Linked DNA regions of Homo sapiens: region 1 is linked to region 2. Evidence: fine-mapped expression QTL. A gene starts in region 2. The other region holds a variant in brackets. All regions are shown on one strand. Distances are from middle to middle. Region 1 overlaps ERAP2 (endoplasmic reticulum aminopeptidase 2). Region 2 holds the start of ERAP2 (endoplasmic reticulum aminopeptidase 2).

What was found. PIP is the estimated chance that this variant, and not a neighbour inherited with it, causes the effect.
Region 1: its variant is fine-mapped to the expression of ERAP2 in activated CD8 T cells (Schmiedel 2018, PIP 0.95).

The regions. Positions count from the first base shown.
Region 1 is chr5:96,903,421-96,907,821 of GRCh38, reverse strand. ERAP2 (endoplasmic reticulum aminopeptidase 2) reads right to left here. Exons shown (of 19, transcript NM_022350.5): 13 at 4,262-4,401. It also overlaps a transcript of ERAP1 not described here. Among named protein-coding and RNA genes, the nearest start is that of ERAP2, 29 kb to the right of the region's middle. The variant T/AT (reference allele first, on the strand shown) is at 1,878.
Region 2 is chr5:96,874,345-96,878,745 of GRCh38, reverse strand. ERAP2 (endoplasmic reticulum aminopeptidase 2) reads right to left here and starts at 2,246. Exons shown (of 19, transcript NM_022350.5): 1 at 2,219-2,246. It also overlaps a transcript of ERAP1 not described here. RefSeq lists enhancers at 1,348-1,557, 1,928-2,137, 2,308-2,457, 2,478-2,607.

The DNA.
Region 1 (4,401 bases), 29 kb before region 2:
AACCTCTGCCTCCTGGGTTCAAGCAATTCTCCTGCCTCAGCCTCCTGAGTAGCTGGGATTATAGCCATGTGCCACCATGCCCAGCTAATTTTTTGTAGTATTAGTAGAGACGGGATTTCACCATGTTGGCCAGGCTGGTCTTGAACTCCTGACCTCAGGTGATCCACCCGCCTCGGCCTCCCAAAATGCTGGGATTACAGGCATGAGCCACCTGGCCCGGCTAGTCTGCCGTATTAAAAAAAAAAAAATCCACAAAATGTTGCTACTCCTTCCCACCTGTGTGAGCAGCACAATACCTGGCACAGTTGATACCTTAGCATCAGCAATAGGCAGAAATGATATTCCAGGGCCACAATTTTAAGAAGAATATTTGACATATTAAAACTACTTTATATTAAGCCAGTTTTTCTTTCCAGCCCAGCCTAATTGATTTCTTACTAAAATCAATGCCATTATTAAAAATACTTACTTTTATAGTTGCCTATTTCTTTTAATTTTAATATTTATTCATAAGGGACTCCTTTTCTTTTTATATAGTTACTGAGTTGTTTAATTAAAAAATCTAAGTCCTCATTACTAACCCTATGCTTCAAAAAATGCATAGAATGTTATCTGAATGTTTGTTTAGCTTAAAGAATAAAACATATATAAACATAAACCTTAGCTCAACAGTAAAAGTCCACACCTACTTACTTGTATATGATTTCAGCTAGATTGTACCTTTGAGAAATAACATCATATTCTTGAAGCACCAATTTGGGTTTTCTGTTTTGTTTTGTTTTGTTTTGTTTTTGAGATGGAGTTTCACTCCTGTTGCCCAGGCTGGAGTGCAATGGCACAATCTTGGCTCACTGCAACCTCTGCCTCCCGGGTTCAAGCGATTCTCCTGCCTCAGCCTCCCAAGTAGCTGGGAAGGCACACACCACCATGCCCAGCTAATTTTTATAATTTTAGTAGAGACGGGGTTTCAACATGTTGGCCAGGCTGGTCTTGAACTCCTGACCTCAGGTGATCCACCCGCCTTGGCCTCACGAAGTACTGGGATTACAGGCGTGAGCCACTGCGCCCAATGTGGGGTTTTCTCTTTAAGGTGTGGGACTAAAAGAAACAAATATAGCTTTTTCTATAGGCAAATTGAAGTTGTCATTTCAATTCCACTCAACTTATCCAAGACCCCTGTCTTTAAATTACATTTAAAATGTATGAAAACCGAACTAAAATAAATATCAATTCTTGCATCAAATTCTCTCTCCATTCTGGGTGCAGTGGCTCACACCTGTAATCCCAGCAATTGGGGAAGCCGAGGCAGGAGGATTGCTTGAGCCCAGAAGTTTGAGACCAGCCTGGACAACATAGGCAGACGCCATCTCTGCCAAAAAATTTAAAAATTGGTTGGGCATGGTGGTGTGTGCCTGTAGTCCCAGCTACTCAGGAGGCTGAGGTGGGAGGATCGCTTGAGCCCAGGAGGTTGAGGCTGCAGTGAGCCATGATCGCACCACTGCACTGCAGCCTGAGTAAAGCCCTTGAAGAAGAAGAGCAAAGCCCTTGAAGAAGAAGAAGAGGAAGAAGTAGAAGAGGAAGAGGAAGAGGAGGAGGAGAAGGAAGAGGAGGAGGAGGGGGAGGAAGAAAAAAAAAAGAGACAGTGTCGTGTCGTGGTTAAGAGAATGGCTCTGGAGACAGCCCTTGGATGACAATGTCTTGTCCACTAAAGAACTAAATAGTATCACCTCTTGTAAAGATTGATTTACACTGGGTGTGGTGGCTCATGCCTGTAAACTGAGCAATTTGCGAGGCTGAGCAGAAGTGCTTGAGGCCAGGAATTCAATATCAGCCTGTACAATATAGGGAGACCCTGTCTCTACAAAAAAAAAAAAAAA[T/AT]TAAAAAGAAAAAAAAATTATCTCTCCAAACTAAATGTGATCACTATTGGTTCCTTTGATTCTTTTTTGTTTGTTTGTTTTTTGAGACAGAGTATTATTCGGTCACCCAGGCTGGAGTTCAGTGGCGTGATCTTCTGGGTTCAAGCGATTCATGTGCCTCAGCCACCCAAGTAGCTGGGATTACAGGCGTACACCACCACACTGGGCTAATTTTTTTATTTTTAGTAGAGATGGGGTTTCACTATGTTGCCCAGGCTGATCTCAAACTCCTGGCTTCAAGTGATCTGCCTGCTTCAGCCTCCCAAAATGGTAGGGTTACAGGCATGAGCCACTGTGCCGGGCCTCCTTTAATTCTTAAATTGAAGTTTCATAAAGCAGGGAGGAAAGTGGTTTATAGTATTGAGAAAGAACAGCAAGTAAAAATTATTTATTTTTATCTATTATGAGAGCTTTAAATTGTTTTCTTATACAATTACTTTTGTTATAAATGTAATATAAGTAAATATAAACAAATTTCAGAACAACTAGAAATTAGACTCATAATTACAAAACAACCAGAAATTAGAGAAGGCTCATAATTTCAATACCCTACACACTCAACAATAGCATTTTGAAATAATTCCTTCAGGTTTTTGTTTCCCCTTCGCACTTATTTTTTTCATTTGTAGTTGCAAACAAACATAATAATACACAGACTTACATTCTGCCTTTTTCTCAACTTCACATTATTTGAAGTGTACTTTTCTATGTTGTCATCTCCTCCTCCTATTCATGTCATGACATTTCAAATAATTTGTATTAGATAATACTAATAATGTTAACAGCTGACATTTATTGAGTAAGTACTGCACTTACTGCTTTATCTTCATTACCTATGCAATCCTCCAAACCTTGTATATCGGATATTATTAGTAATAAAGTTTTAAAGACTGGAAAATTTAGGCTTAAAAAGGTTAAAAAAACAAAACTTGTCCAAGCTCAAAAAATTAGTAAGTGAAGAGGTAATACCTGAAATCTTCTTGAAATTTTCATATAAAATTTGTATTCTTAACTTCATTAATCTGTCTACTTAGTGAAGAAAAGATGATTAGTTTTCCACCAATGCATCAATAACTGCAAATTTCCTCCTACTAAATTTAGACAATCTAAGTGGATAGGCTAGAAACAGCAAAAAAGATTTCACAACTACCTAAAAGATTAATTTGCTGAATTGTCAATATTCTCCATTTTTTCCAAGTCTTGCATTGTTAATCTATCTTCTCTTCAATCTACTCAGAGCTTCTCCTTTGAGCAGGCAAACCTCCTTCAACTAGCAATAGCTTGCTTCTTAGCTCACCTTTCATGCATTCACTCATATGTAGGATGGTGTTTTTCCTAATTTTGGCCTCCAATGAGCTATGCCTCCAAGATGTTCCTGAGACCCACGGGACTGAGGATTAAGCCTCACTTCCTCTTTTCTTTCTAACTAGAGGATTTTAGTGTACCGAGAAACTTTGTCTCAGAGATGTCCTGCTGGTCACTTTCACTCAATTTGACCTAAATAAGCTCCTGAAAGAAAATTATATGTCACATTGAGTAAAGTGAGTGCATCACAGTAATTCTCAGAATAGGGAAAGCTTGCAATGCACAATATACTTCCTGGTCCTCAATTCCCTCCAGCCATTGGTGATCTTGTGACCTGATTCATTCCACACATTATTCTGTTCATGATACATAGAAAAAGAAAGAAAACACTTTGTCCTTCCAGGAAAGTCTAGAGAGGAATGAATGCAAACAGCCATTTATTACTTCATTTCCCTACAAACGTCATACTAATTTCTCCAGTGTAAGTAATGAATAGATTTCATAACAACCCATTTAAAATTATAAAAGTTAAGACTATATTTGTACTTTTCCTTAAGAGATTACACCGGTATTTGGTGTAGCAGCTAATAACATAAATACATTTTAAATGTGGGGTCGAAAGCTCAAATACTTAGAGAGTCCACACTAAGTGAATGAAACAGGCCATTTGGGACTTTGGTGCTTGGGAGAAAGTAGGCCTGGCCTAAAGAGAGTTTGGCCCACTGCACTCTCCTTTATAGCTATCCTGTGGCCCACAGGATAAAGACCCACAGTTGCCAAATATCATTTTTAAGAGATTCCAGAGGTCAGGATTTTTAGGTAAAGTTCTCCACATTTTAAAATATTGGATTACAATTATAAACACTGTGTGGGTCAAAATACGTTATTAGTGGGTAGTCTTTGGCCTAGTGATCACTGTTTGAATTCCATTCAAATCCATATTAAATCAATGACCAATGTTGAACATTCAATATTGAAGTCTAGCATATCTGGTTACGAATCAGTTATTTTGCATGAAGTCAGAGGAAATGTTGCCTTACCCAACTAGCTGAAACACATCATGAATCAGACCTACTCTGTCCTTAGGTCTGAGAAGTGTGTGGTTCTGATTCAGCTGTGTAATGAGTTGGTCCCATCCATGACCCTCATAGTGAACGATGTAGTAACCATTTGAGTCCAC
Region 2 (4,401 bases):
ATGTTGGCCTGGCTAGTCTCGAACTCCTGACCTCAGGTGATCCACTTGCCTCAGCCTCCCAAAGTGCTGAGATCACAGGCGTGGGTCACTGCGCCTGGCCATATTTTATTTTTTTTGAAAGACAATGTGTCACCATGTTGCCCAGGCTGGCCTCAAATTCCTGGGGTCAAGCAATCCTGATGTCTCAGCCTCCCAATTAGCTGGAACCACAGGCACACATGTAATTTTAAGTGTATGCCTGAAAGTAAACTGTGCAAGATGTCTCTATTTTGTCTTCATAAGTCACAAAGAATATTCTATATATATATTCTATATTCTTTGGATACCAGATATTATTATTACTACGAATGGCATTGAACTTCACCTCTTTCAATAACATTATCTGAATGGCCTCATTTTATGGCTACTGGTGTAAAGGTTGCTGGTCAAGGTAGGTATTTATCCCCAGTTTATTTTCAATATGTCAAAAGCCATGGAAATAAATTTTGAGTTTATAATATTCTTACAGAATTTTTTTAAGGTTCGGTTCTTTTCCCTTTACACTACTTTTGAAAGCACAATTAAATCAAACTGAATTTACTACCTTTGTAAATAGAACTAAGTTTCTTTCTTTTTGAAGGGTAAAGCTACAACACATATAAAATTAGGACAAACAGCATAGTTAATTTGGGGGAATCAATTCTTACTGCCACCCTACCACCTGCCTCTACTTACTTCCTTACTGCTCCAACTCAAACCATGAAGGTTTTCTCTGCTACTTCTTCTTTTTATAATCCTTAACAAGTTCTGCAGCATTAATTATCCAAACAATTACTTCAATTTTTCAATTTGCAATATTAATGCAGGTGACAGGTATTGTTAAAGGAACAAAAATAAAATAATATTAAAGATACTTCTCCCTCTTTTTAAAAACAAGCATTAAATTACTGCTACAAATCTCAGTGTTCCAAGAACGTCTGATAAGTACACTCATAATTGGTCTATTAGCTTGAATTTTGGAGGGTTTAAAAAAAATGGAGTGGCTTATTATGTGGGTCTGAGGCTTTGGAATCAGAGTGCCCAGATTCCAACGCTAATTCCACCAACCTCACCTACGTGATCATGGGCAAAGTTTTTTACTTTTTGAGCTTCATTTATCTCAACCATAAAACAGTGTAATAATTATACCTTCCTCATGCTGGGATGATTAAATGAAATAATTCATGTGAAGAAGTTGGCACAGCACAGCATGGAGCATATAGGAAGTAAGTAATTAGTGTTGGATATGAAATTATTATTGAGGTTATAACTTGCATTCAATGGCCAAAATGAAGGAGTAGCTCGCCCCCACTTGTAGCAGACACTCCTAGAGATGTACTTGATTGATAAGAGTAGAGAGAAAAGCTTTACTCACACAGTCTTTAACTTTAGAACTAGTAAGGGTTGTAAAGGCCAGCTAGTACAAGTCCTTAGTGTTCAGATAAAGAAACAGGACCGGGCACAGTGACTCAGGTCTGTAATGCCAGCATTTTGGGAGGCCAAGGTGGGCAGATCACCTGAGGTCAGGAATTCGAGACCAGCCTCACCAACATGGTGAAACCCTACCTCTACTAAAAATACAAAAATTAGCCGGGCATGGTGGCACATGCCCGTAGTCCTAGCTACTCGGGAGGCTGAGGCACGAGAATCGCTTGAACCAGGGAGGTGGAAGTTGCAGTGAGCCGAGATCGTGCTGCTGCACTCCAGCCTGGGCGACAGAGCGAGGCTCTCTCTCAAAATAAATAAATAAATAAATACATAAATTAAATTAAATAAACAGATGAAGGAACAGGATGGTGACTTCTCAAAATCCACACAGGAAGTCTGAAACAGAATCAGGACTAAAACATAGCTCTTTGCCCTTTGGTCTGGTGGGCTTTCTATTATACTGCACTGTACCTTAAATAGCAATGCAGTGAACAAAACATCCTGGGATTGAAGAGGCAAGAATTGTCACAAACGCTTAGAAAAGACAAAAAGATCTCTGAAAGAGAGTCAGTGCAGCAGCGTCTTAGATCAAGTCCCAGCCTCAACTGCATACACTTTCTAATACAGCCGCGCCCAATTCACCCCAGTCCCCCAGAACCTTGCCTTAGATTACAAAACCTTCTCAACACAGCAGTTCTATACCTTCAGTTCATTATTCTTATTGAAAAAATCTAATTTTAAGACAAACCCAAGAGAAATGTTGATACGTTACCTTAAATCATGCTGCTGCAGATTTGACTGAAGGGGAATTTACTTTTGCTTTCACTTTCTGTTCTAAGATTCAGAACTTTGCATGCTTCCTGAGTACAGTAAGTACTAGCTGGTTCATTATCACGCAGGTGTGAATGGAGCTTAGGATAAGAGCTTTATTTCAAAAAGGACAAGAAACTTTTTGTAGAATGCACAAATAAGTGGCTTTGGAGTAGAAGCCAAACCATGGAAAGAAAGGATCGCCAGTGGCTGCCACTTCTGCTGTTATCACCTCCCTTCCCTTGTCCCCAGGGTAAAGCCTTCAGAACATAGTTTATGTTTTTTAGTGCCAAGTTGTTGTCTTAGGAATTGATCTTGAACTTCTCCTTGTGCTGCATCCTCAGTGCTATGAAATCTGACTTCTGCCCATCCACCCCACAAACGTAACTCCAAGCTTACCAAACACCTCCCGGGCAGCTTCTGTGATCTTTATCAGAGGTGATTATTCTCAGATTTTCCATGTCTGTAACCACCCTGTCTCCTTGGGCACGAGGGGACTGTATCTCATGCTCATCTCTTTGATCTCTCTTTATCTGCCTGTTTGAGTTGGGCTTCAACTTCCTCTCTGCTCTGAATACAGACCTTCCACAAAGATGAAACCTCTGGCCTTTGCTCTGCCCTCTCTTTATCCTTTCCAGTACCCAGATTTAGCATTTATCCCCATTCATCCCACATTGCTCCCATTGTGATCCCTCCTTCAAGGGTTCTGCTGCTGTAATTCCAACAGCCTGATGGACCAACAGTACATGGATGTCTAACCCTAACCTGAACCAGAACCCTGACAACTCAAATAGTGTTTTCTTTCCCCAGATAAACACCCTTTGCTTTATATGCTTCCAGCCTTCTTCCATTATCTAGGATTGAACCATATAGTTAGTTACTTTGATTCTGTCCCTCTCCAATTTGTTACCAAAGCCTGTTGATTTTTCCTTTTCTTTTCTTTTTTTTTTTTTTGAGATAGGGTCTCACTCTGTCACCCAGGTTGGAGTGCAGTGGTGCCATCCCAGCTCACTGCAGCCTTGACTTCCTGAGCTCAAATGATCCTCCCACCTCAGCCTCCCAAGTAGCTGGGGCTACAGGCATCCACCACTACACCCAGCTAATTTATTATTTTTTTTTTATAGATGAGGTCTTCCCATGTTGCTCAGGCTGGTCTCAAACTCCTAGGCTCAAGTGATCCTTCTGCCTCAGCCTCCCAAAGGATTGGGATTACAGGCATGAGACACCGCAACTGGCCTTTTTGAATCATTTTCAATCTCTTTCTATCCAACTAAGAAAAAATCCCACCGCTTATTAAAGTAGTCCAGGTCCTCATCCTTCCTCACAATGGCCTTCAATCATGTCTTCCCAGCTTCTCAAGCTCAGCTTCTTGCAGTTACTTGTACGATGCCACCAGATTAATCCTTTCAACTACTGCTCGACCATGCCTCCCCCACTGCTCAAGATCTTTCCTTGATTTCCCCATTTACAGAGGGGCAAGTCCTAGTGTGGGAACCATAGTGGCCTACTGGCAGCCTATATGCCAGCCTATAGTTGTTTTGTTTGAATCACAGTCTATTAAATGGCAATACATCCATACAATTTCTATTGTCAAGTGAAATATAACAAGCTTAGCTCTTATCATGTTGCAGACACTCTTCATAGACTTGTATCATGTGCCTTGTCCTGCTGTGGTTTGTGTTTGCAACCTATGTTTGGCCCAATAGCACATGTTGCCATGATTAGATCCTAGTTAAGTCTCAAGCTTTAATTTTTCCACCTTTCTACATTTTATTATTTCAACCTGAAAGAACAAGTCGATAAAGTAGAAGGGGCAGAAAGGAAGGCAGTAGCCTACACCTAAGGCCCGAAACATAAGACTGAATGGGGTCCCTCAGAGCTGCATTTCATGTAGTGAGAGGGGCACCACAGGAAGGGGGATGGCTGGAAGCCAGTGAGTGGGAAAAAGAAGGGGACAAAGACGACAAAGAAGAGGAGGCCCCAAGGGCTTATCTACGGACTCTAACTCTGCAGGGCGTGGGGGCAGGTAGAAGAGGTATAGGAGGCTGGGAGTATTTCTGTGATATTCCTTGTCACAAGATCCAGCCTAGCTGTGGGTATGTGGGCGAGTGCATGTGTGTTTTCAGAGCTCTCTCCTGCCCACTG